3 separate regions of the Homo sapiens genome follow, and all the other regions are linked to region 2. Evidence: fine-mapped expression QTL. A gene starts in region 2. Each other region holds a variant in brackets. All regions are shown on one strand. Distances are between the middles of the regions. Region 1 holds the start of SAPCD2 (suppressor APC domain containing 2). Region 2 holds the start of DPP7 (dipeptidyl peptidase 7). Region 3 overlaps MAMDC4 (MAM domain containing 4).

Region 1 (9,496 bases), 43 kb before region 2:
AGGCACATCCTTAGAGGCCATGCCCCTGGCACCTGGCCACAGGAGTCAGGGAGTGATGCAAGAATTGGGCCCAGGTAGGCACGGCAGAGAGCCTGGCTCCAGGCAGGCCCGAATTCGCACTCCAGCCTGCGGTGCTGAGCGGCTGGCAGCTCTGGGGCAAGACAGTGGAAGAGCACACAGCCCTTCAGGAGGTGGGAGCAGAGAGGGTACAGACAGAGGGAGGCCATAGAGGAAGTCCCAGGACACCTGGGCCCGGTCTGTACAGTTGAGTCCATAGAGCAGCTCCTGGGTCCCCAGATAGCAGCGTGCTGGGTGATGAGCTAGATGGCCTCTAGGTGGGGGTGGTGGCTCTGCCCCTCCAGGGCCCTGAGCCAGCAGGCCACACCTCCAGGGCCACAGCCAGCCTGGAGCAAACACGCAGTCCCAGGTGGGAACAAGGAAAGAGGCCCTGAACATCTGGGCTGGGGGCTTGGAAGGCTGTGTGTGTTGGCAGGCTTTCTGGGAGTTGGGGTGACCTCAGAGCTCCAGATTTGACACCCCAAAAGCCAGCTGTGTCAATCAAATATGTCACGCCATTTGTCTGGCCCTCCGTTTGCCTGTGAGAGGGTGACAGCTACAGCCCTAGCCATGTGGCCTTCAGGGAGATGTGGTACGTGAGCCAGTGCCGCATGGGGCATCAGAGCAGAGCAGGGGTGGACCACAGGCTTAGGCCTCCAAACCCCAGGCCCGGCCACAGCGTGCAATCCCATGGCTGATTTCAAACTGCATGGCCACATGGATGACGCTGACCCTGCATTTGGAGCCAGATACCCTCTGAAGGTTCCCTCACCATAGAACTAGGGGTCCCCCAGCCTGGTGTGGCTGCTGGATCAGATCACCAGGGAGGCCAGGGCCGCCGTGGCTCCAAACACCAGCTGTAGGGCTGGAGAATATGGCTGAGGTGGGGGAGCAGTACAGGGAGGGTGGCAGAGCAGCAGGCAGCACAGGGACCGGCAGGAGCCACCGGTGGGCAGGCCTCCCCTGGCAGAACGGGTGCACAGGCCGAATGGGCTGTGGGGCCTGGGGCCCCTCTGGGAGCTTGGCCCCCCAACCCCAGCCATAATACAGGTCCTGTTCCCAAGGCAGGCACTGGGTTGGGGGAGACAGGGGACCATTCAGCAATCTCCCATCACTGCCAACTGGACCGGAAGGCAGGAGAGGAGTGTGCCAGCCATCCCCAGGGACTACGGCCTATGTCCCTCCATGGCATCTGCCATAGTACAGCCCCACTGGGGTGCAGGAGATCCACCCACGCCCCTGCCCATCTTGGCAACAGGGCCAGGTCCTCTTGGGCCACCAGCAGCAGCCCCCGCCTGCCTAGGCCTCAGTGGGGTCAGTGGGCCCAGCCCCCCTGGCTAAGCTGTCACACTGAGAAGGGGGACCCTTTCTTTGAGAAGGAAGCACTTCTGCCTGAGCAGCCACAGACAGGAGGCTGAGGGCCCAGGTGTCCCCAGGTGCGGAAAGGGTATTGGAGATGGAGAGCCCAAGCTCAGGCTTGGTACAGGTTGGGCTCCCGGTGGGTTTTCTGAGTCACCTGCCACCCCCCGGCCCTGGTGGCCTTATGCTGTGGCAGGAGAGGGTCTGGCTTGCCTCCCTAAGCAAGCCCCTGGGCTCACCGCGACAAGCATGAAGCCCTTTCCCTCCAGACCCGCCGAGGCGCCCTCCAGGATCCGGAGTCCACGAAGAGCCGCTCCCCGGTCCCGTCCCTTGTGGGAAATGCACGGGCAGCAGCTGTGGGACTGCGGTTTCTGGCCCGGGCCCGGGAGAGCTACGAGGGTGCCCGGGGGCCGTCCGGAACTCACCTGCGTCCGCGCTGGAGCTCGGTTCCAGCGCCGCGCTCTGGGACCGCTCGGGCTCCGCGGGGCAGGGCGCCGCCTCAGCCGGGGCGCACAGCTGCTCCGGGCTGCGGGCGGCGGCGCTGGGACCGGCCAGAGGGGCGCGCACGCCCAGGGGCAGGGGCTTCCTCTCCAGGACCGTCCGCGGCTCGTCGGCCGGAGCGAACACCAGGCGCTGCGGCGGCGGCGGCGGCTGATCCCCGGGCCGGGCCGGGGCGCGCGTGGGGTCCCGGGGGCCGCCGTCGGCGCTCAGCAGGGAGGTGCGCAGGCCGGCCACGAAGCGCTCGAAGGTCAGGTAGCCGCTGGCCGGGGCCACCTGGCGCAAGCCCTCCAGCACCCCGCGGGGCAGCTCCCGCGCGTCGGTGCCCTGCCAGCGGGACTCGATCTCGCGCAGGTGCACGCAGCCGCGCCGCCGGTCGTCCAGGATGTCGAACAGGGTGCGCAGGCTCTGCAGGAAGGCGCGCGGCAGCCCCTCCGTGCTGGGCGCGGGTGCGGGGGGAGGCACGCGGCCCCGCTCGGCCATGGCGGCCCCGGCCATGGGCGCCCGGGATCGGTCCCCTCGTCCACCCGCGTGCGTCCCAGCGCGGCCCCACGGAGGGGCCGGCCCGGCGAGCTCAGCCCACGGCGACAATAGCGACTACTTTTGAATGGGGCCCTCCTCGCGGCGTCAGCCCTCATTAACATGCGCCGCGGCCATTGGCCGAGCCCGTCCCATCTGCTCTCTGATAGGCTGAGAGGAGGTTTGATTTTTTTTTTTTTTTTCTTGCCGAGTGGCCCTGGGAGGCGCGCGGAGGCCCTGGGCAGGCGGAACCGGATCCCCCAGCTCCTGCTCCACTCTGGCCTCGCAGACCTTCCTTTCTGCCCCGCCCCAGCCCCACCAAACCTCCTGCCGCGGCCAGGCGCTTTCTCGGATCCAGCTGTGGCTGGCTGCCCCGGCCACCTCTCCAAGGGGCGGGGCCTGGCACCCTACAAAAAAACCTGTCTCCAGGTAGCCTCGTGGGGTAAGAATGGGGGGGGGCACCCCCTCCAAAGATCCCACTTTTCCCCTCTAGTTCCCTGGCCGCAAGCACAGGTGACCCTGCGGCCCCCTTCTCTTCCACCAGGAGGGCCCCAAGAGGATCGTAGGCTCCAGCCAGCTGGGCGCTTCCCACTCACAGAGGCCTTTCTGTCCCCACTGCTGCTGGCTCCTCCTCTGGTCCCTCGGGACAGTCTGGCCTGGCCTGCCTGCTGCAGAACAAAGCCACTTTCTCCTGTGTCCCCAGATCCCCATCTAGTGACCAGCTCCCTCTGCCTCTTGCTCTCCTCTCCTCCTTCCCCTGGCTGGACACCTCCTCCAGCTGCTCTCCTGGCTCCCGCAGCCCTGTCCCCCTGCCTCTGCTGTGTTTCCAGCTGGGATCTGGTCACTCTGTCTTCATTTGGTCTGTCCACATGGGAGGTGAGACCAGGCCTTAGCCTGGGTTCTAGCCCTGGGAGCCCATCTCAGGGCTGGCCAGTAGTACCCTCTAGGTTCCAGGGAGGTGTTCAGGGTGCAAACACCCTCCCCAGACAGGCCCCCAATCCGAGACTTGCCTTGGCCCTCTGCGGGTCTCCCACCCTCCCTCCTGGGCAGGCCTCAGCTGGCATACCTACCTGGGTCTCTGTCCTCAGGCCTGAGCCACTGGTGCCTGTGTCTCAAGCTGTAGAGGCATCTTCCCAGGCCAGGGAGTATCCTGGGTCCACTTCTCTTCTGGGTCACTCACTCTAAGTGGGACTCCTTCATCGTAGGGAATGCTGGAAGGACATAAGAAGCTCTGAGCCTGGAGCAGCCCATCAGAGCTTGGTCCTGTAAGCCAGCTTCCCCTTTAATGGCTGGTCTGCTCAAAAACCCAGCACGAGGCCGAGGCGGGAGGATCACTTGAGCTGGGGAGTTCAAGACCAGCCTGGGCAACATAAGGCAACCCTATTTCTACAAAAAGTTTAAAAAATTAGCCAGGCGTGGTGGTGCATGCCTGTGGTCCCAGGTATTTGGGAGGCTGAGGTGGGAGGATCCCTTGAACCCAAGAGGTTGAGGCTGCAGTGAGCTGTGATTGAGCCACTGCTCTCCATCCTGGGTGACAGAGCGAGATCTTGTCTCAAAAACAAAACAAAACAAAACAAACCAGCACAACACGCAAGCCCCCGCCCCCCCATCCCCACACCTACCCTGCTTCCAGCACACCCCTCACCGCCAGTGCCAGGCCTGGGGTCCCTGCACTCCCTCACTTCCAGGCCCCTGTGCCTGGTGGCTCTTCTACCAGGAAGGCCCTTCCCCTCTGCTCCAGGCTGACCGCACTACATCCTTCAGAACTCTGCTCTGGCCCCAGTCCCCTTCCCCCTGAAGCCTAGTTAGATAAAACACAGGGGACAGCTTTCTCCTGGCCCAGGGGGCCCTGGCTATTTGCAAGCAGGACAGGGCTCCTTCTAGGCCTGGCATTGGCCTGGCCCACAGTGGGTGCTCTGTGAATGGCACTGGGGAGCCGTATCCAGTGAAATCATATGGGAAACACCATCCTTGAGTGGGCACCAAGCCAGGCTGAGGCCTAAGGGATGGGGAAGGGCTGGGAACAGCTCAGTGGTATGGCAGGGGAGGCCAGTGTGGATGTGGAGTCGGTGGCCAGCAGTGAGCAAGGCTGCTGCAGCTCAGGACAGCGTGGCCAGCAGTGTCCAGGCCAGGCCAGCCATGGCCCCGCATGGAACTGAACCCACCGTGCAGATGAAACAAGGGCTTTTCATACCATCCAGAGCCTTGGGGGAGGCGGCCCCAGCTGGCCCTTGGTCTGTGGGCTTCTCTGTGGCCCCTGGCTGGGTATTGGAGGAAGGTATGAAAAAGACTGGAGGCCGGGCACGGTGGCTCACGCCTGTAATCCCAGCACTTTGGGAGGCCAAGGCGGGCGGATCACCTGAGGTCAGGAGTTCGAGACCAGCCTGACCAACATGGAGAAATCCCGTCTCTACTAAAAATACGAAATTAGCCGGGCATGGTGGCCCATGCCTGTAATCCCAGCTACTCGGGAGGCTGAGGCAGGAGAATAGCTTGAACCCCGGAGGTGGAGGTTGCGGTGAGCCAAGATCGCGCCATTGCACTCTAGCCTGGTCAAGAAGAGCAAAACTCCATCTCAAAAAAAAAAAAAAAAAAAGGCTGGGCACGGTGGCTCATGCCTGTAATCCCAGCACTTTGGGAGGCCAAGGCGGGAGGATCACGAGGTCTGGAGATCGAGACCATCCTGGCTAACATGGTGAAACCCCGTCTCTACTAAAAACACACACACACACAAAAAATGAGCCGGGCGTGGTGGCGGGCGTCTGTAGTCCCATCTATTCGGGAGGCTGAGGCAGGAGAATGGCGTGAATCCAGGAGGCGGAGCTTGCAGTGAGCCGAGATGGCACCACTGCACTCCAGCCTGGGCGACAGAGCGAGACTCCGTCTCAAAAAAAAAAAAAAAGACTGGAGGCTGTGCCTGGCTTTGGGCGTGGAGCTAAGATGTGGTCCTGTGTCCTTCCTGTCCTGAGCTCTGACCACTTCCTCCTTCACTCCACTTTCCGGCTGGCCTGATAGTTTCCCAATCCTTCAGGTTTTAGTGCTGTGTCACCCCTGGGGGTCCCATGCTGTCCCTGTACTTTTGGAGGCCCCATCTTAGCTGTAATTGTGTTCTCACTGTGTAAGCCTGGACCACTCTGGGCAGAGGTGGCAGGAAGACCGGCCCCTCTGTCCCCTGATGTATCCCCAGCAGTGGGCACCAAGTGAAGAACTGGCAACAGCCACCCAGCCCCTGAGCCTCCCAGGGCTCCCCGTCTGCACTCCTGGCCTCTGAGCCTTAGGGCCTTGCTCCCCTGGGCCTCTTGTGAAGACAACTGCCTGGCCACAAGGTGGTCCAGGAGGTTGCTGCCCACCTCAGCCTTGCCAGCACTCCCACCCATCCGTAGGCTCTGTCGGTCTGGGCAGGGTCGCTCCTCCCCTTCTGGTGCCGCAAGTGCCTCTGGCTGTACAAACCTTGATTTTCCAAATCTTCTATTACAGCCCAACCCACACCTTGAGGTGGGATTTGGAATCACCCTGACCTACAGGGCCAACAGTTCATGTCCTGACACCTGCCTCCAAGAGACATGTGCCTCCTCTGCTGCCCAGCCCTGCAGGGGTGATAAGGGTTCCCATGGACTCTGGCCTGGGGCGGGAAGCCTGCTCTGCTCACCGGATTCCGCGAGCCTCCCCTCCAACTCCAACGTTCACCTAAACGATGTTCAACCACCACAAACCACTGGAGCAGAACAGGCCATTCATTAATTCATTCATGCAGCAGGTACTCCCTGAACATTTGCTGTTGCCCAGTCACGGTGTGGGCTGGGGTTCAACACTCGTTTGTTCAATCAACAAACATTGATTGAGTGCCTACTGTGTGCTGCATTTACCTGAGGTGATGGGGGCAGACCACTGGCCTAAACAATGCCCTGCCTGGGCTGGGCACGGTGGCTCATGCCTGTAATCCCAACACTTTGGGAGGCCGAGGCGGGCAAATCATGGGGTCAGGAGTTCAAGACCAGCCTGGCCAACCATCGCTACTAAAAATACAAAAAATTAGCTGTGTGTGGTGGCGGGCGCCTGTAATCCCAGCTACTCAGGAGGCTGAGGCAGGAGAATCACTTGAACCCGGGAGGCGGAGGTTACAGTGAGCCGAGATTGCACCACTGCACTCCAGCCTGGGCGACAGAATGAGACACGGTCTCAAAACAAAAAACAAAACAAAACAAAAACAGCAACTCCCCGCCTTTGTGGGGTTCGCTTCTCACAGGGGAGTCAGGTAGCCAAGAATGCAGAAAGGCAGCCTGGCACGGAGGATGGGAAGGTGCTCACCGAGTGGGCGTGGCCTGGGGAGCTGAGGCCTGACCAAATGCGTCCCCAGCCACACGTTTCTCTGGGGACAAGCGGTCCAGGAGGGAGGAACAGGAAGTGCAGAGACCCTGAGGCAGGCCCGAAAAGCAACTCCATGCAGGTCCAGAAGAGTGCATGTGGGCCTTGCCCCAGGGGTGAAGCCCCCTCCCAAACTCAGTGAGGGCATGTGTGTGGAGGTGGGGGCAGAACCCAACTGCAAGGAAACACAACTGCCTGAGGGGTCCACGGGGCAGCATGAGGGAGATGTTAGTTTTCATTTTGGGTCCTAGATCACTGTCAGAGGTGTGTGAACCAGAGCAACTCCATCTTGAATGGGAGCTGGGTAAAATAAGGCTGGGGCCTACTGAGCTGCATTTCTGGATGGTTAAAGGATTCCAAGTCAGGATGACACAGGAGGTCGGCACAAGATACAGGTCACAAAGACCTTGCTGATAAAAGAGGTTCCGATAAAGAAGCCGGCCAAAACCCACCAAAACCAAGATGGCAACGACAGTGAC[C/T]TCTGGTTGTCCTTGCCGCTACACTCCCACCAGCACCATGACGGTTTACAGATGCCACTGCAACGTCAGGAAGTTCCCCTATATGGTCTACAAAGGGGAGGGATGAATTATCCACTCCTTGTTTAGCATGTCATCCAAAAAAACATAACAATGGGCAACCAGCAGCCCTCAGGGCTGCTCTGTCTGTAGAGAAACCATTCTTTATTCCTTTACTTTCCTGATAACTTGCTTTTGCTTTACTGTATGGGCTTGCCCTGAATTCTTTCTTGCGCAAGATCCAAGAACCCTCTCTTGAGGTCTGGAACCTCTTTCCTGTAACAGCATGATTTGTTTTTCTTTTTCGGTTTGTTTGTTTGTTTTTTGAGACAGAGCTTCGCCCTTGTTGCCCAGGCTGGAGTGCAATGGCGCGATCTTGGCTCATGGCAACCTCCGCCTCCCAGGTTCAAGCGATTCTCCTGCCTCAGCCTCTGGAGTAGCTGGGATTATAAGCATGCAACACCATGCTTATATATTTATATTTATATTTAATATTTGTATCTATTTTTAGTAGAGACAGGGTTTCTCCATGTTAGTCAGGCTGGTCTCAAACCCCAGACCTCAGGTGATCCGCCCGCCTTGGCCTCCCAAAGTGCTGGGATTACAGAAGTGAGCCACTGCGCCCGGTTTTTTTTTTTTTTTTTTTTTTGAGACAGAGTTTCGCTCTGTCACCCAGGCTGGAGTGCAGTGGTGCGATCTTGGCTCACTGTAACCTCCGCCTCCCGGGTTCAAGTGATTCTCGTGCCTCATCCTCCCAAGTAGCTGGGACTACAGGTACACGCCACCACACCTGGCTGATTTTTGTATTTTTAGTGGAGACGGGGTTTCACCATGTTGCCCAAGCTGGTCTTGAACTCCTGGGCTCAAGCGATCATCCTGTCTCGGTATCCCAAGGTGTTAGGATTACAGGCATGAGCCACTGCACCTGGCCACCATTTGAATTCTTTTATGCAGTCACATATATTACTTTTAGACTTACTATATAGTTTCTAGGAGAAAGTTTTGTGCCCAACTGGCAGAAGCTACCCTTTCATATTTTTCACAAGCAAACTATTTTATTTTTATTTTTATTGAGAAGTCTCACTCTGTCTCCCAGGCTGGAGTGCAGCAGCAGGATCTCGGCTCACTGAAACCTCCGCCTCCTGAGTTCAAGGCCTCCTGCCTCAGCCTCCCGAGTAGCTGGGACTACAGGCGCCTGCCACCACACCCGGCTAATTTTTCTATTTTTATTAGAGACGGGGTTTCACCATGTTGGCCAGGCTGGTCTCGAATTCCTGACCCCACTTAGGACTCCCAAAGTGCTGGGATTACAGGCTTGAGCCACCGCGCCGACCACAAGCAAGATATTTTAAAACCTGATAGTAAAATAACAATGTGGGCGAGGGGCTGCAGAGCGCTCTGGTCACCAGGCAATGGGAAGCAGGAAGGGTGTGCGGGAGGGAGCCCCAAGCCGCGGGATGGCATCCCGGAACCTGGTCTGGTTCCAGCCTCCCAACAGCTCAGCCGTAGCCCAGGCCTCTTCAATGCACTCTGGCCGGTTGTCTCTGCACCAGGAGGTCTCCGTCCAAGTCTTGGTTAGCGCAAAGGTGGCCATGCCACTCTCAGGTTCAAAGCCCGTGCTGGGACAGAACCTAGCTTTCCCCTGCGGGGCGTCCCTGGGGCCTCTTCCTCCCTTAGCTCAATGGTCGATTCCTCTGCCCACGCCAGCTGGCGCGACCCAGAGGGTCCTGGGATCTCTCGGGGCGGGGCGCGGAGTGGACAGGGCGGGCATGGGCCCGGGGCCTGGAGAAGAGCAGGAACGGGGACGGGAGCTCGAGGGAGCAGGCCAGGGCCAGACACCGGAGCGGGTCCAGGGGACGGAGAGGGACGGGGGACAGGCTGGAGAGATGGGGCTGGGCCCTGTCTCGAGTCTCGGACCGGACGCGGGGGGGCTGGGGGGATGTAGACAGGGCGGGGTCAGAGAGAACCCGGACAGAGTCTGGGGTGCGCAGCGGGGGTGGGCGGGCTCCAGGGCAGGGCGCGGGACCGGGCGGGATGGGGCGGGGCGGGGCGGGGCGGGGCGGGGCGCCCGGGGCCCGCCCCACTGGGGGGTCTACACCGCCCGCCCGGTCTCGTGACGCTGGTCAGTGGCGCGGGTCACGAGTGCCGACTTGACAGACGGCAGCGGCGACATGGCTTCGGAG
Region 2 (9,417 bases):
GATGGTGACGGCGATGACTGAGGCACTCAGGTTCCTCCGAATCTGTGGTCAGTGGAAAGAACTCCATCAGGTGAGGAACGAGGCAACTGCCCAGCCTCCGTGGGCCCATTGGAGAGGAGACGTGAGAGGGCGAGCCGAGACTCAGTGCCCATCAAGCAACCAGAGAGAACCAGCCAGAGACGGAGGTGGGAAGTGACGAGATGATGGGGGCAAAACCGGGTGAGACAGGAGCAGGGAAGGGGCAGGTGTGAGGCCTGTGATCCCAGCACTCTGGGAGTAAGACAGGAGCAGGGTAGGGGCAGGTGAGGGGCCTGTGATCCCAGCACTCTGAGGGTGAGACGGGAGCAGGGTAGGGGCAGGCGAGGGGCCTGTGATCCCAGCACTCTGGGGGTGAGACGGGAGCAGGGTAGGGGCAGGCGAGGGGCCTGTGATCCCAGCACTCTGGGGGTGAGACGGGAGCAGGGTAGGGGCAGGCGAGGGGCCTGTGATCCCAGCACTCTGGGAGGCCATGCGGGGAAGATCGTTTGAGCCCAAGAGTTCGAGACCAGCCTGGGCGATATGGTGAGACTGTGTCTCTACAAAAAAATATTTTTTTAAATTAGCTGGGCATGTTGGTGAGCGCCTGTAGTCCCAGTTACTGGGAGGCTTGAGCCTCAGAGGTCAAGGCTGCAGTGAACCCTGATCTCGCCACTGTATTCCAGCCTGGGCGCCAGAGAAAGACCCTGTCTCAAAAAAAAAACAAACAAACTAACGGGGTCATAGGGCCCAGGCCAGGACTCACCCCGCCCCCTGCCCAGGGGTCCAGGTTCCCGTTGGAGAAGATGATGTTGCTGGCGGCTCTGAGATCTGCAAGGGGCAGAGAAAGTTGTGATGTGGGCCCCTCACGGGGGCTGTGAGCCATGGGCAGGGGGTGCAGAGCTCGGGGCAGAAAGCAGGACGCTGGCCCACCCCCCCTCAGCCTTACCACCCCCCCAGAAGCTGGTCAGCAGCCAGTCGGGCCGGGGCCACACGCCCCAGGTGTCCAGGCAGTACCGCTGGCGGAGCTCGTCAGTGAAGGGCAGGTCCGGGAACATATCGGTCACATTGTTGCTGGCGAAGGTCAGGTTGATCTCGGTGCAGGCCTGCAGGTGCCCCAGCCTGAGTCAGGCCAGCCCACGCCCACCCTTGCCCCCGAGTGGTTCCAGGCCACCCACACCCCCACACCTGGTAGTCCCAGGCCCTGGCGTCGGGGCCGGTGCCGCAGCCAGTGGGGTCAGCACAGCTGTGGTAGAGCCGGTAGATGTCGTAGCAGTGCTCGGAGCCCGAGGCGTTGTAGACCAGCCCTGGGGAGGAGAGGCGCTGGGGCCCAGCGGCCACACACAGACACACCGCGGGCTCCGGCCACCAACCTGTCCCCCCTCGGAATGGTCCTGCAGGGGATCTGGGGCTCTGGGATCTGTAGGTCCCAGTGAGGAAGGCCCTCCAGGCTACCTGCTTGGAGGTCGGCGGTGTCTGTGCTGCCAGCCCCGGGCCTGACTGTTGAGGGCCCCCCCGCTCTCCACGGGGCAGGGTGGGGCCTGCTGCCCTCTGTTGCCCTCCATGCTGGGGACCCCAGGGGCCCCTTGGGCAGCACCCACCAAGCTGGGCCTGGCTACAGCCAGTGCTGAGAGGGTCCCCAGGGACGGCCCCTGCCTCCCCCAGGGTTTCTGGGAAGGTCGTGCTGTCCACCCCACCACAGCCCTGGGGCAGGAGGCAAAGCCCCTGGCCGGGCTGCGGATCCTCGCCCCACCCGGCCCCAGGACCCAAGCCAAGCCTGGGGTCTCCACACTTGCCCATCTGGGGCCGGGGGAAGGGCACCTGCCAGTGCTCGCAGCCCCGTGATCCTCTGGGCCTCACTCAGCAGCCGATCACAGCCCACCTGGAGTGCAGGGGCAGCGGCGACTCAGCGGGGTCCCCTCCACCAGCTCCGCCTCCCTGGCTCCCAGGATGAGGGTCAGGCCGCTGACCACCAGCCTCGGGACACTCCAGCCGGCCTCTCCCTGCGCCCTGGGAGGCGGCGCCTCACCTTGACGGGGTTGGCAGGGAGGGGACCCAGGAAGTCAGTGGGGTAGGGGTAGTCCATCATGGCCAGCACGGTGAAGGCATTCCGGGCGAACATGAAGAGCTGGGTCAGGTCCTTCTCGTCTGACAGCGGCTGGCAGGTGCCGAACTCCCAGCGGACCGTGTCGTAGGCTGCGTGGAAGGGGCAGAGACTTGAAGTTTGGGCATAGCTGGCGCTGGGGCGGGTCAGGCAGTGGGAGGCGGTGGGAGGACCTCACCTCCCTGTAGGAACAAGTCCTTGATCTGTCGGAACGCTTCCCGCACACCCTGGGTGCATTTGGGACTCTGGCCCTCAAAGTCCTGGGGGAAAGAGACCGTGCTGACTGCAGCTGCTGTCCCTTAGGGGGCCTGGAGGACCCCAAGCCTCACTCACCGCCGTGACGTCCCGGAAGAACTGGTTGGAGTCGCCGAGGCCTGCCACAGCTAGAACGGGCGCGCTGGCCGCCAGCGCCCCCGCCACCAGGTGGGGATACTTCATCCTCAGGTAGGCACTGAGCATCCCCCCATAACTGGGTGAGGGACACAGGGTTAGGGCTGCTGCCCCCAACACCCCATTTCCTCTTTTCCTCCTCAGGGGCCCACAGGTGCCACAAGGAGGACGACACTTCTGAGACCCACAAATTCCAACCCTGGGCCAGGTGCGGGTGCAGCTCTCACTGGGAAAGGCCGCTAGTGTGGCCGCACATCCAAGCTGAGCAGGTGGCTGGGAGGACAGGTGGGAGGGCTTCCTGGGGGAGGCAACACTAAGCCTGGAACCACTGCCTGAGGCCTTACGAAAAGGCAGCGGTGGGAGTCAGAGGGGAGTGGGGAGAAGGGCTGGGGGCGCTGGGTCGGGGCAGGGGAGGGAGGGGGTGCGGAGGCCGGGGGAGGCGCCCACCTTCCACCGAAGGCGATGGCGGGGGCATCCTGGGCCCCGAGGTCGCGTCGTAGCGCGCGGAGCAGCTCTGCGAAGTCGGCCAGGGCCTGCTCCACCGTCAGCAGCTCCGTGTGCCCGCGCTGCGTGGACTGCGCACCGAACGGCAGCGACTTCCCGTAGTAGCGCTGGGGGAACGTGCCATTGAGCCCGGCCCCGCGACCCCGCCCGGCACCCGCGTGCCCCGCGACCCCCGCCCGCGACCCCGCCCGGCACCCGCGTGCCCCGCGACCCCCGCCCGCGACCCCGCCCGGCACCCGCGTGCCCCGCGACCCCCGCCCGCGACCCCGCCCGGCACCCACGTGCCCCGCGACCCCGCCCGCGACCCCGCCCGGCACCCACGTGCTCCGCGAAGACCAGTAGAGCCCCCCGCTCGGCCGCCAGCTCCGCGACGAAGGCCGAGTTGTTGGCGAAGGCCCACACGTCGCCCTCGTTCCCAGTGTAGAAGAAGATGGGCCCCTCGCCCCGGACCCAGAACCTGTCTGTGGGGAGGGCGGATGAGGCGAGGGTGCCGGGGGGCGGCGGGACGGCGGGGGCGGCCGGGCCGGGGCCGGGGTCTCACCCGACACCAGGAAGCGCTGAGGGAAGGTCTTGTTGCCGAAGCGCTCGAAGTTGAAGTGGTCCAGACGCTGCTGGAAGAAGCGCTCCTGGAAGCCGGGGTCCGGGGCCCTGCGGGCTGTGGGGGGACGCGAACCTCAGAGGCGGGGCCGGGACCGGGGAATGGGCCGGGGGGCGCCGCCACTCACCCCCCGCCTGGAGGCCGCGCAGCCCGAGCGCCAGCAGCAGGACCGGGGCCCAGGGAGCGGAGCCCATGTCGCCTTCCGCGGGCGCCCGTCACGTGGGCGGGGTCACGGGGCCGCCAGGGCGCGCTCCTCCCTCCAGGCCCCACGTGTTTCGGGCGCCCGCGGTCCCCACGGAGACCGTCGCTGCTTCAGCGCCGCGCCGGGGCTGTGCCCCCCAACACCCCGCGCCCCGCGGCCGCTGCCCAGGGGTCCTTCCCGGGCACGGCGCGGGGAAGCAGAGGGCCCCCGGGCCATCTCCGCGGCCTCCCGCCCCACTGGCTCGTCCTCCTACCGCGGCCCCATCCGGAGCTGCGCTAGGGCGAGTCCCTGCTGCGCCCGCCAAGCCTCCCCAGCACTTGCTCCTGGCAGGTGCCCCACTCCAAGGCAGGGCCGGGAGAGTGGGGGCCGTTCTGCTGCCCTAAGGGCGGGAGGGAGAGGGTCCCAAACAGAGTGCTGGCCCCCCGAAGAAAGCAACCCAGGGTTTGTCCAAGCGATAACGGGCTGGGCTTGGCGGGGCGGGGCCTCGCAGCGGGCAGGAGTGTGGGGTGCCCCTGGAGCGTCTGGGCAGGGCCGGGATGTGGCCGGGTAGCTCCCAAGAGCTGGGAATCGCCACCTGCCCTTCCGACTGGCACCCAGTGTGCCCACACAGCCCTGCAGGGACAAGGGGGGACCAGAGGCCTCTGCTGGGAGCTGGGGCCTCCTCCCTGGGGAGCACCCAGAGGATGGAAGAAGTCACCTTTCCCCAGCGTCCAGTTCAGGGAGTGGGTGAGGGGGCCGTAGTGGTGGGTGCCAGACTAGCTACGTGGAGTCCTGCTGGGGATGTACATGGGCCGCTAGCCAGGCCCAGAACAGGTGCAGGGGCAGCAGGGGCTCAGCTACAGAGAGTTACCCTGTCCTTCTCCCAAGACTACCCTCGGCCAGCATGACCCTGCCCTGCCCATCCTGTGTGGGGCTGAGCGGAGAAGACCGGCCACTTCCACAGCCCCTCACGCCATGGCCCTCCCGTGCCTCACACAGAGGCACCCCCCATGGTGGGTGACTGGTGGCTGGGGCCCTCAGCATGGTGGCAGTGACCATCACGTCACACTGCAACACGAGGTCATCCAGGGCCACACACCGTCCCCACCACGGCCCTCACATCTGGGCCCTGTCCCATCCCTACGCAGTTCCTGGGGCTGCCTGCCGGGGCCCCCGCAGGACGGGGGTGAGGACAAACAGCAGACCTCCTTGGATGTGGAGGTACCCCACGGCGTCCCCCACCCCACACCTCTGCTCCTTTGGCTCCCTCGGGTGCCTTAGGTGGCCAGAACTCCACCAGCAACCCTCACCCAGGACCGCAGCTCTGGAGACGCCAGCTAGGCCGAGAGCTGGCCAGCTCCCCAAGCACACCAGAGCCTGGAGACGCTCCAGGCTTGGCTGGGCCCACAGAGGGGCCAGAGCCTCAGGGAGGGCTCCAGGAGCAGGGTTTCCAAGGAAGCCACTTTCCCTCTTGTCCACGGCCCAGGCATTGATGCCCCTCTGGGCAGCAGCCAGGGCCTCCCAAGCCGGGAAGGGTGGGCATGGGGCTACCCAGCATGGCTCTGCCAGGGGTGAGGGTGGCCACAGTCCCCTGCCCACATCCCTGTGCCCACAGAAACATATGCTGTATGGAATCAAGGTTTAAGGCATCTAGGCCTGTGCTGGTAACCTGTAACCTTAGCCCCATCCCTGTGCCCACAGAAACATGTGCTGTATTGACTCAAGGTTTAGGGGATTTAGGGCTGTGCAGGATGTGCTTTGTTAACAATGTGTTTGCAGGCAGTATGCTTGGTAAAAGTCATCGCCATCCTCCATTCTCCATTAACCAGGGACACAGTGCACTGCGGAAAGCCGCAGGGACCTCTGCCCAAGAAAGCCTGGGTATTGTCCAGGTTTCCCCCCAGTGAGACGGCCTGAGATATGGCCTCGTGGGAAGGGAAAGACCTGATCGTCCCCCAGCCCGACACCCATAAAGGGTCTGTGCTGAGGAGGATTAGTGAAAGAGGGAGGCCTCTTTGCAGTTGAGATAAGAGGAAGGCTTCTGTCTCCGACATGCCCCTGGGAACGGAATGTCTCCGTGTAAAACCCGATCGTACATTAGTTCTATTCTGAGACAGGAGAAAACCGCCCTGTGGCTGGAGGCGAGATATGCTGGCGGCAATGCTGCTCTGTTACTCTGCTACACTGAGATGTTTGGGTGGAGAGAAGCATGAATCTGGCCTACGTGCACATCCGGGCACAGCACCTTCCCTTCAAGCTATTTGTGACACAGATGCCTTTGCTCACATTTTCTTGCTGACCTCTGCTCTGCTGCCGCATTCCTCATGCAAAGATAGTGAAAATGGTAATGAATAAATACTGAGGGAACTCAGAGACCGGGGCCGGTGCGGGTCCTCCGTATACTGAGCGCCGTCTCCTGGGCCCACTGCCTTCTCTATACTTTGTCTCTGTGTCTTATTTCTTTTCTCAGTCTCTCATCCCACCTGACGAGAAACACCCACAGGTGTGGAGGGGCTGGCCACCCCTTCACTGGCACAGCAACCTGACATGTGAAGGGGCCCAACTTCTGCAGGAGGACCCCAGGTCTGCATCGCCAGGGCCCTCGTCAGCCTGTGCAGGGCACAGTAGGTCACCCAAGGGGCAAGTGAGCCTAGGCTGCCCATGCCTGTGCAGACACCCCCGATCTCTCTCTGCCCATCCCCGGAGCAGCACAGACGGGCAGGTTGGCTGCAGAGCCACCAGCTGAGGGGGTGAGAGGTCCCTGGGCAGGGAATCCTGGGAGCCTGGCCAGCAAGGGTGAGAGGCTGCTGAGCCCAAACCCTCCCCTCGAGGTCCATCTGCCCTCTCCAGACCATCTAGGCAGCTCCTCCACACCCCGATTCCTGCTGGGACACCCAGTCCCACCCTCTATGGCTCACAGACTGGGGGCCATGCCCGGCCACACATCACGTCTGTGCTGTCCCTCAGACTGAAAGGCTATCGGCGGGCGGCTGGCCGTGACCTACTGCATCCGCACTTGGGGCCGTGCTGGTCTGTGTGCTGAATTATACATAATATAAAATTGACCACTTAACCACTTCCGCGTGTGAAATTTGGTGGCATTAGGTACATTCCTGCCTTCACAACGCTGTGCACCGTCATCACTATTTTCCACTATCTCATCACCCCCAGTAGAAACTGTAGCCATTAAACAATGGACCCCAGCCCCTGGCACTCACCATTCTACCATCTGTCTCTGTGGCTCTGCTGACTCCAGGTACGTCATATCAGTGGAATCCTACAGCATTTTGTCCTTTTTTTTTTTCGAGACAGAGTCTCACTCTGTTGTCCAGGCTGGAGTGAAGTGACACGATCTCGGCTTACTGCAACTTCCGCCTCCTGGGTCCAGGCCATTCTCCTGTCTCAGCCTCCGGAGTAGCTGAGATTACAGGCACCCACCACCACGCCTGGCTAAATTTTGCATTTTTAGTAGAGACAGGTTTTCAGCATGTTGGCCAGGCTGGTCTTGAACTCCTGACCTCAGATGATCTGTCAGCCTCAGCCTCCCAAAGCGCTGGGATTACAGGCGTGAGCCACCACACCCGGCCTGTTTTAGCCATTGTGAATATTGATGCGATGAACATGGCTGTGAAATGCCTGCTTTTTTTTTTTTTTTTTTTTTTTTTGAGACAGTCTCGCTCTGTTGCCCAAGCTGGAGTGCAATGGCGCAATCTCAGCTCACTGCAAGCTCCACCTCCCGGGTTCAAGCAATTCTCCTGCCTCAGCCTCCTGAGTAGCTGGGATTACAGGCGCACATCCACATGCCTGGCTAATTTTTGTATTTTTAGTAGACACGGGGTTTCACTGTGTTAGTCAGGATTGTGGGTGGCAAGCCACTCAGGTGCCAAGGCAAGAGACCGAGGACATGAGCTGTTCCAGTATAATAAAATATAAAACAAGAATAGTTATACCAGATATAGATCTTAGATATGATTATATATGAATATAATTAATCATTAGTAGTACTTATTCTTTATTCCAATATTATAATAATCCTCACTCTACAATCATAACCTAGGAAAAACCAGGCCATACAGAGATAGGAGCTGAGGGGACATAGTGAGGAGTGACCAGAAGACAAGAGTGCGAGCCTTCTGTTATGCCAGGACAGGGCCACCAGAGGGCTCCTTGGTGTAGCGGTGATGCCAGCATCTGGGAAGACACCTGTTGCCAAGCAGACCATGGTCTAGCAGTAGCGTCAGTGTCAAGGGAAAACACCTGCTACTTAGCAGACAGGGAAAGGGAGTTTCCCTTTCCCCTGGGGAGTTTAGAGAAGACTCTGCTCCTCCACCTCTTGTGGAGGGCCTGACATCAGTCAGACCCGCCCGCAGTTATCCGGAGGCCTAACCGTCTCCCTGTGATGCTGTGCTTCAGTGGTCACACTCCTAGTCCACCTTCATGTTCCATCCTGTACACCTGGCTCTGCCTTCTAGATAGCAGTAGTCAATTAGTGAAAGTACTAAAAGTCTCTGATACGCAGAAATAATGGCGTAAGCTGTCTCTCTCTCTGTCTCCTCTCCCTCTCTCTGCCTAGGCTGCCAGGCAGGGAAGGGCCCCCGTTCAGTGGACACATGACCCACATGGCCTTACCTATGACTGGAGATGGCTCACACTCTTTACCCTGCTCCTTTGTCTTGTATCCAATAAATATCAGTGCAGCCTGCCATTTGGGGCCACTACCGGTCTCTGCGACTTGGTGGTAGTGGTCCCCCTGGCCCAGCTGTCTTTTCTTTTATCTCTTTGTGTTCTGTCTTTATTTCTACACTCTCTCATCTCCACACACGGGGCGAGACCCACTGACCCTGTAGGGCTGGTCCCTACACAGGATGGTCTTGATCTCCTGACCTCATGATCCGCCCACATTGGCCTCCCAAAGTGCTGGGATTACAGGCGTGCGCCACCATGTCCAGCCTGTGGTTTTGATTTGCATCTCCCTAACGATTAGTGATGTTGAACATTTTCCCTGTGTTGACTGGCCATTTGTATGTCTTCTTTGGAAAAATGCCTATCAAATCCTTCGCCCATTTTTGAATTGGGTTGTTTTTTGTTGAGTTTTATGATTTTTAAAAATCATCTGGATTGGCCGGGCATGGTGGCTCACGCCTGTAATCCCAGCACTTTGGGAGGCCGATGCGGGTGGATCACGAGGTCAGGAGATCAAGACCATCCTGGCTAACACAGTGAAACCCCGTCTCTACTAAAAATACAAATATATATATATATATATATATATGTTAGCCGGGCGTGGTGGTGGCTGCTTATAGTCCCAGCTACTTGGGAGGCTGAAGCAGGAGAATGGCGTGAACCCGGGAGGCGGAGCTTGCAGTGAGCCAAGATCACGCCACTGCACTCCAGCCTGGGCGACAGAGTGAGATTCCGTCTCAAAAAAAAAAAAAAAAAATCATCTGGATCTCGGCCGGGCACAGGGGCTCATGTCTGTAATCCCAGCACTTTGGGAGGCCAAAGCGGGCAGATCACAAGGTCAAGAGAACGAGACCATCCTGGCCAACATGGTAAAACCTCGTCTCTACTAAAAATACACAAATTAGCTGGGCGTGGTGGCAGGCGCCTGTAATCTCAGCTACT
Region 3 (4,617 bases), 260 kb before region 2:
CCCAGCAGCAGGGTCCTCAGGCTGGGCCTGGGTCCCCAACCACTGCAGGAGCCCTGGCCAGGCCGTGTGCAACTTCGTGTGTGACTGCAGGGACTGCTCAGATGAGGCCCAGTGTGGTGAGCCAAGACCAGATGGGCGGGCAGGGCCAGTGCGAGCAGGTCTGGCACACACCTGACCACCCACTCTCCCAGGTTACCACGGGGCCTCGCCCACCCTGGGCGCCCCCTTCGCCTGTGACTTCGAGCAGGACCCCTGCGGCTGGCGGGACATTAGTACCTCAGGCTACAGCTGGCTCCGAGACAGGGCAGGGGCCGCACTGGAGGGTCCTGGGCCTCACTCAGACCACACACTGGGCACCGACTTGGGTGAGGCCAGGGCAAGTCTCTGTGCGCCCCTGTCCCAATACCCTCCTTGCTCCCTGCCCCGTCTCCTGACCTCTCACCTGCGCCAGGCTGGTACATGGCCGTTGGAACCCACCGAGGGAAAGAGGCATCCACCGCAGCCCTGCGCTCGCCAACCCTGCGAGAGGCAGCCTCCTCTTGCAAGCTGAGGCTCTGGTACCACGCGGCCTCTGGAGGTGCACCCTGGACCCCCAAGGCTCGTGGGGGGTGCCCAAGGGGAGGGCGGGTGGGCAGCTGGGGACAAGCAGGGCCGCAGCTGCCCTGGGACCCCTGACATTGCAGATGTGGCTGAACTGCGGGTGGAGCTGACCCATGGCGCAGAGACCCTGACCCTGTGGCAGAGCACAGGGCCCTGGGGCCCTGGCTGGCAGGAGTTGGCAGTGACCACAGGCCGCATCCGGGGTGACTTCCGAGTGAGCTGGGAGGGTCTGGACGAGTGGGGGCCTTGAGGAGGGGTCTGGGCCCTGACTTAGGTCCTAAGAGCCTGTTCTCTTCAGGTGACCTTCTCTGCCACCCGAAATGCCACCCACAGGGGCGCTGTGGCTCTAGATGACCTAGAGTTCTGGGACTGTGGTCTGCCCAGTAAGGCACCGCCTCTTCCTGTTCCACCCCCGGGAGGGCCCCCACCTGCCCACTCCCCTGCTCAGACCCTGTCTGCCCCCGAGTGCTCTCCCACTCCTGGGGCCTCGGTGAAGGGTTAACCCTGCCCCACCCAGCCCCCCAGGCCAACTGTCCCCCGGGACACCACCACTGCCAGAACAAGGTCTGCGTGGAGCCCCAGCAGCTGTGCGACGGGGAAGACAACTGCGGGGACCTGTCTGATGAGAACCCACTCACCTGTGGTGAGGCCGGAGTGGGGGCCCAGAGTGAGGCTGGGAGACTGGACGCCTCGGTGGGGGCCCTGGCACTCATCCAGGAGGGGGTGCCTTGGATCCTTGGATGGTCCTTCTTGGGGTGTGGTTGCCAGGGCCCCCCTGGAGCTGGGGCCATACGGCTTCAGGAAGCACTGCCTGGTGGCCCTGACACGCCCACCTCCTGCCCTAGGCCGCCACATAGCCACCGACTTTGAGACAGGCCTGGGCCCATGGAACCGCTCGGAAGGCTGGTCCCGGAACCACCGCGCTGGTGGTCCTGAGCGCCCCTCCTGGCCACGCCGTGACCACAGCCGGAACAGTGCACAGGGTGAGGCCCACAGAGGACCCGGCCCAGGCCCTGCCCACGCAGCCACAGCCCAGTGGCCCTGGCCCACTCCCGTCCTTTCCCGCAGGCTCCTTCCTGGTCTCCGTGGCCGAGCCTGGCACCCCTGCTATACTCTCCAGCCCCGAATTCCAAGCCTCAGGCACCTCCAACTGCTCGGTGAGATGGGTGGGGCTCACAGGGCCTCCCTGCTCTCCGTGCTGGCTGCCCCGGTGCAGGCCCCCAGCCAGCTCTTGGTTCCACAGCTGGTCTTCTATCAGTACCTGAGTGGGTCTGAGGCTGGCTGCCTCCAGCTGTTCCTGCAGACTCTGGGGCCCGGCGCCCCCCGGGCCCCCGTCCTGCTGCGGAGGCGCCGAGGGGAGCTGGGGACCGCCTGGGTCCGAGACCGTGTTGACATCCAGAGCGCCTAC[C/T]CCTTCCAGGTAGGGAACAGCAAGAGGGTGGGGTCTGGGGAGCCGCACTGTGGGCAGGGGAGGGGAACCCACAAGGTACCCACTGCGGGTGGACAGGGACCAGACCCCAGGGGGAAATAGGCTGGGCACCCCCTGAGCCCCTCTGCCCTCAGATCCTCCTGGCCGGGCAGACAGGCCCGGGGGGCGTCGTGGGTCTGGACGACCTCATCCTGTCTGACCACTGCAGACCAGTCTCGGGTGAGCCTGCTGACTCTGCCCTACCCTGCCTTGCCCTGGAGAGGCACAGCACTCCCCATCCCTGCCTCCTGACACCAGTTCTGCCCCCACAGAGGTGTCCACCCTGCAGCCGCTGCCTCCTGGGCCCCGGGCCCCAGCCCCCCAGCCCCTGCCGCCCAGCTCGCGGCTCCAGGATTCCTGCAAGCAGGGGCATCTTGCCTGCGGGGACCTGTGTGTGCCCCCGGAACAACTGTGTGACTTCGAGGAGCAGTGCGCAGGGGGCGAGGACGAGCAGGCCTGTGGTAAAGGGGCTCAACCTCCTGCAGACCTCCTGCTGCGGAGCCAAGGGGGTAGGCGCCGGGGCAGGCTGAGGACTCTGAGGACTCTGCCATTCAGTGCCGGCTGCTGTTCCAGGCACCACAGACTTTGAGTCCCCCGAGGCTGGGGGCTGGGAGGACGCCAGCGTGGGGCGGCTGCAGTGGCGGCGTGTCTCAGCCCAGGAGAGCCAGGGGTCCAGTGCAGCTGCTGCTGGTGAGGCCCAAGGCCCAAGGCTCAAGCCCCCGCCCGGGTGTGAGCAGCGTCCTCAGAGGGGTCTCTGCTCTGCCTCTGCACTACAGAGGGTCTCTGGACTGGGGATCCCTGAGGGACAGAGTGGGGCCCTGGAAGGGATGAGGCTCTGAGCACCATGCTCTTCCCCTAGGGCACTTCCTGTCTCTGCAGCGGGCCTGGGGGCAGCTAGGCGCTGAGGCCCGGGTCCTCACACCCCTCCTTGGCCCTTCTGGCCCCAGCTGTGAACTCCACCTGGCTTATTATTTACAGAGCCAGCCCCGAGGTACCGCCACACTCCGCAAGTTCCCTGGCCAGCCCCTGGGTGCTCCCTGCACAGTGGGAGGGGTCTGGGGCCGGGTGACCCACAGTGCCCCCCGCCCCGCTGGCCAGGCTTCCTGGCACTAGTTGTGGTGGACAACGGCTCCCGGGAGCTGGCATGGCAGGCCCTGAGCAGCAGTGCAGGCATCTGGAAGGTGGACAAGGTCCTTCTAGGGGCCCGCCGCCGGCCCTTCCGGGTGAGGAGGGCAGCCCAGAGTGGGAGCTCCGCTGGAGCGGGCCCTGACTTAACCATCCTCCTCATCCCCCTACCCCATGAAGCTGGAGTTTGTCGGTTTGGTGGACTTGGATGGCCCTGACCAGCAGGGAGCTGGGGTGGACAACGTGACCCTGAGGGACTGTAGCCCCACAGTGACCACCGAGAGAGACAGAGGTTCCTGCTGCCCATCCTCACTCCCACCTGGGTGCTCCCCTTACACTCCTCCAGGGACCCCGGAGCTTCCACCTTCTCAGGGCTCTGGAGGGGGAGGGGAGAAGGTGTGTGACGCCACCTGGCCCCACCCCCAGAGGTCTCCTGTAACTTTGAGCGGGACACATGCAGCTGGTACCCAGGCCACCTCTCAGACACACACTGGCGCTGGGTGGAGAGCCGCGGCCCTGACCACGACCACACCACAGGCCAAGGTAGGATGGGCGCTCAGACCGGGGGTGGCTTTCAGACGAGAGTGGGGCATCTCTGCAGCACAGCCCCATGCCCCCTGCAGGCCACTTTGTGCTCCTGGACCCCACAGACCCCCTGGCCTGGGGCCACAGTGCCCACCTGCTCTCCAGGCCCCAGGTGCCAGCAGCACCCACGGAGTGTCTCAGCTTCTGGTACCACCTCCATGGGCCCCAGATTGGTGAGTGGACCTGGAAACAGGGCAGAGCCTGTGGGGAGGCCCCCGGGGGTTCAGAGTCCCCCGCTCTGACACCCATCAAGGCACAGGAGAGAGGTCAGTTATGGACTGGTCCCCTCCCTGCAGGGACTCTGCGCCTAGCCATGAGACGGGAAGGGGAGGAGACACACCTGTGGTCGCGGTCAGGCACCCAGGGCAACCGCTGGCACGAGGCCTGGGCCACCCTTTCCCACCAGCCTGGCTCCCATGCCCAGTACCAGGTGAGGCCTGGCACCCGGGTGGGAGGACAGGGCAGGGCCCCTGGCCAGCTGACACCCTCCACCCCCAGCTGCTGTTCGAGGGCCTCCGGGACGGATACCACGGCACCATGGCGCTGGACGATGTGGCCGTGCGGCCGGGCCCCTGCTGGGCCCCTAATTACTGCTCCTTTGAGGACTCAGACTGCGGCTTCTCCCCTGGAGGCCAAGGTCTCTGGAGGCGGCAGGCCAATGCCTCGGGCCATGCTGCCTGGGGCCCCCCAACAGACCATACCACTGAGACAGCCCAAGGTATGGGGGCCTGGCAGGGGCAGGGATTGAGGGGCTGGCCAGGGGCTGGCAGGCTGATGCTGGCACCTCCAGGGCACTACATGGTGGTGGACACAAGCCCAGACGCACTACCCCGGGGCCAGAC

The links. PIP is the estimated chance that this variant, and not a neighbour inherited with it, causes the effect. A credible set is the group of variants that fine-mapping cannot tell apart.
Region 1: its variant is the best candidate, but not a certain one, in a credible set for the expression of DPP7 in whole blood (TOPMed, PIP 0.83).
Region 3: its variant is the best candidate, but not a certain one, in a credible set for the expression of DPP7 in whole blood (INTERVAL, PIP 0.77).

What each region holds. Positions count from the first base shown.
Region 1 is chr9:137,068,049-137,077,544 of GRCh38, forward strand. It overlaps SAPCD2 (suppressor APC domain containing 2), which reads right to left and starts at 2,509. Exons shown (of 6, transcript NM_178448.4): 1 at 1,842-2,509. The coding sequence starts at 2,412. UAP1L1 (UDP-N-acetylglucosamine pyrophosphorylase 1 like 1) reads left to right here and starts at 9,469. Exons shown (of 9, transcript NM_207309.3): 1 at 9,469-9,496. The coding sequence starts at 9,485. RefSeq lists enhancers at 1-708, 61-110, 2,671-3,650, 6,234-6,847, 6,558-6,617 and silencers at 411-460, 1,837-1,886, 1,937-1,986, 2,157-2,566, 9,302-9,391 and 1 more. The variant C/T (reference allele first, on the strand shown) is at 7,278.
Region 2 is chr9:137,110,909-137,120,325 of GRCh38, forward strand. DPP7 (dipeptidyl peptidase 7) reads right to left here and starts at 3,825. Exons shown (of 13, transcript NM_013379.3): 1 at 3,739-3,825; 2 at 3,555-3,668; 3 at 3,335-3,474; 4 at 2,957-3,120; 5 at 2,453-2,588; 6 at 2,298-2,379; 7 at 2,045-2,211; 8 at 1,837-1,897; 9 at 1,204-1,322; 10 at 965-1,121; 11 at 782-846; 12 at 1-42. The coding sequence starts at 3,805. LOC124902314 (a long non-coding RNA gene) reads left to right here and starts at 3,891. Exons shown (of 2, transcript XR_007061874.1): 1 at 3,891-6,136; 2 at 6,263-6,870. RefSeq lists silencers at 3,521-3,670, 3,701-4,050.
Region 3 is chr9:136,853,094-136,857,710 of GRCh38, forward strand. It overlaps MAMDC4 (MAM domain containing 4), which reads left to right. Exons shown (of 27, transcript NM_206920.3): 2 at 9-116; 3 at 192-365; 4 at 452-577; 5 at 684-814; 6 at 899-983; 7 at 1,118-1,243; 8 at 1,446-1,583; 9 at 1,669-1,757; 10 at 1,844-2,017; 11 at 2,161-2,245; 12 at 2,338-2,526; 13 at 2,639-2,755; 14 at 2,925-3,056; 15 at 3,617-3,733; 4 more. Among named protein-coding and RNA genes, the nearest start is that of MAMDC4, 3.1 kb to the left of the region's middle. RefSeq lists an enhancer at 4,551-4,617. The variant C/T (reference allele first, on the strand shown) is at 2,009.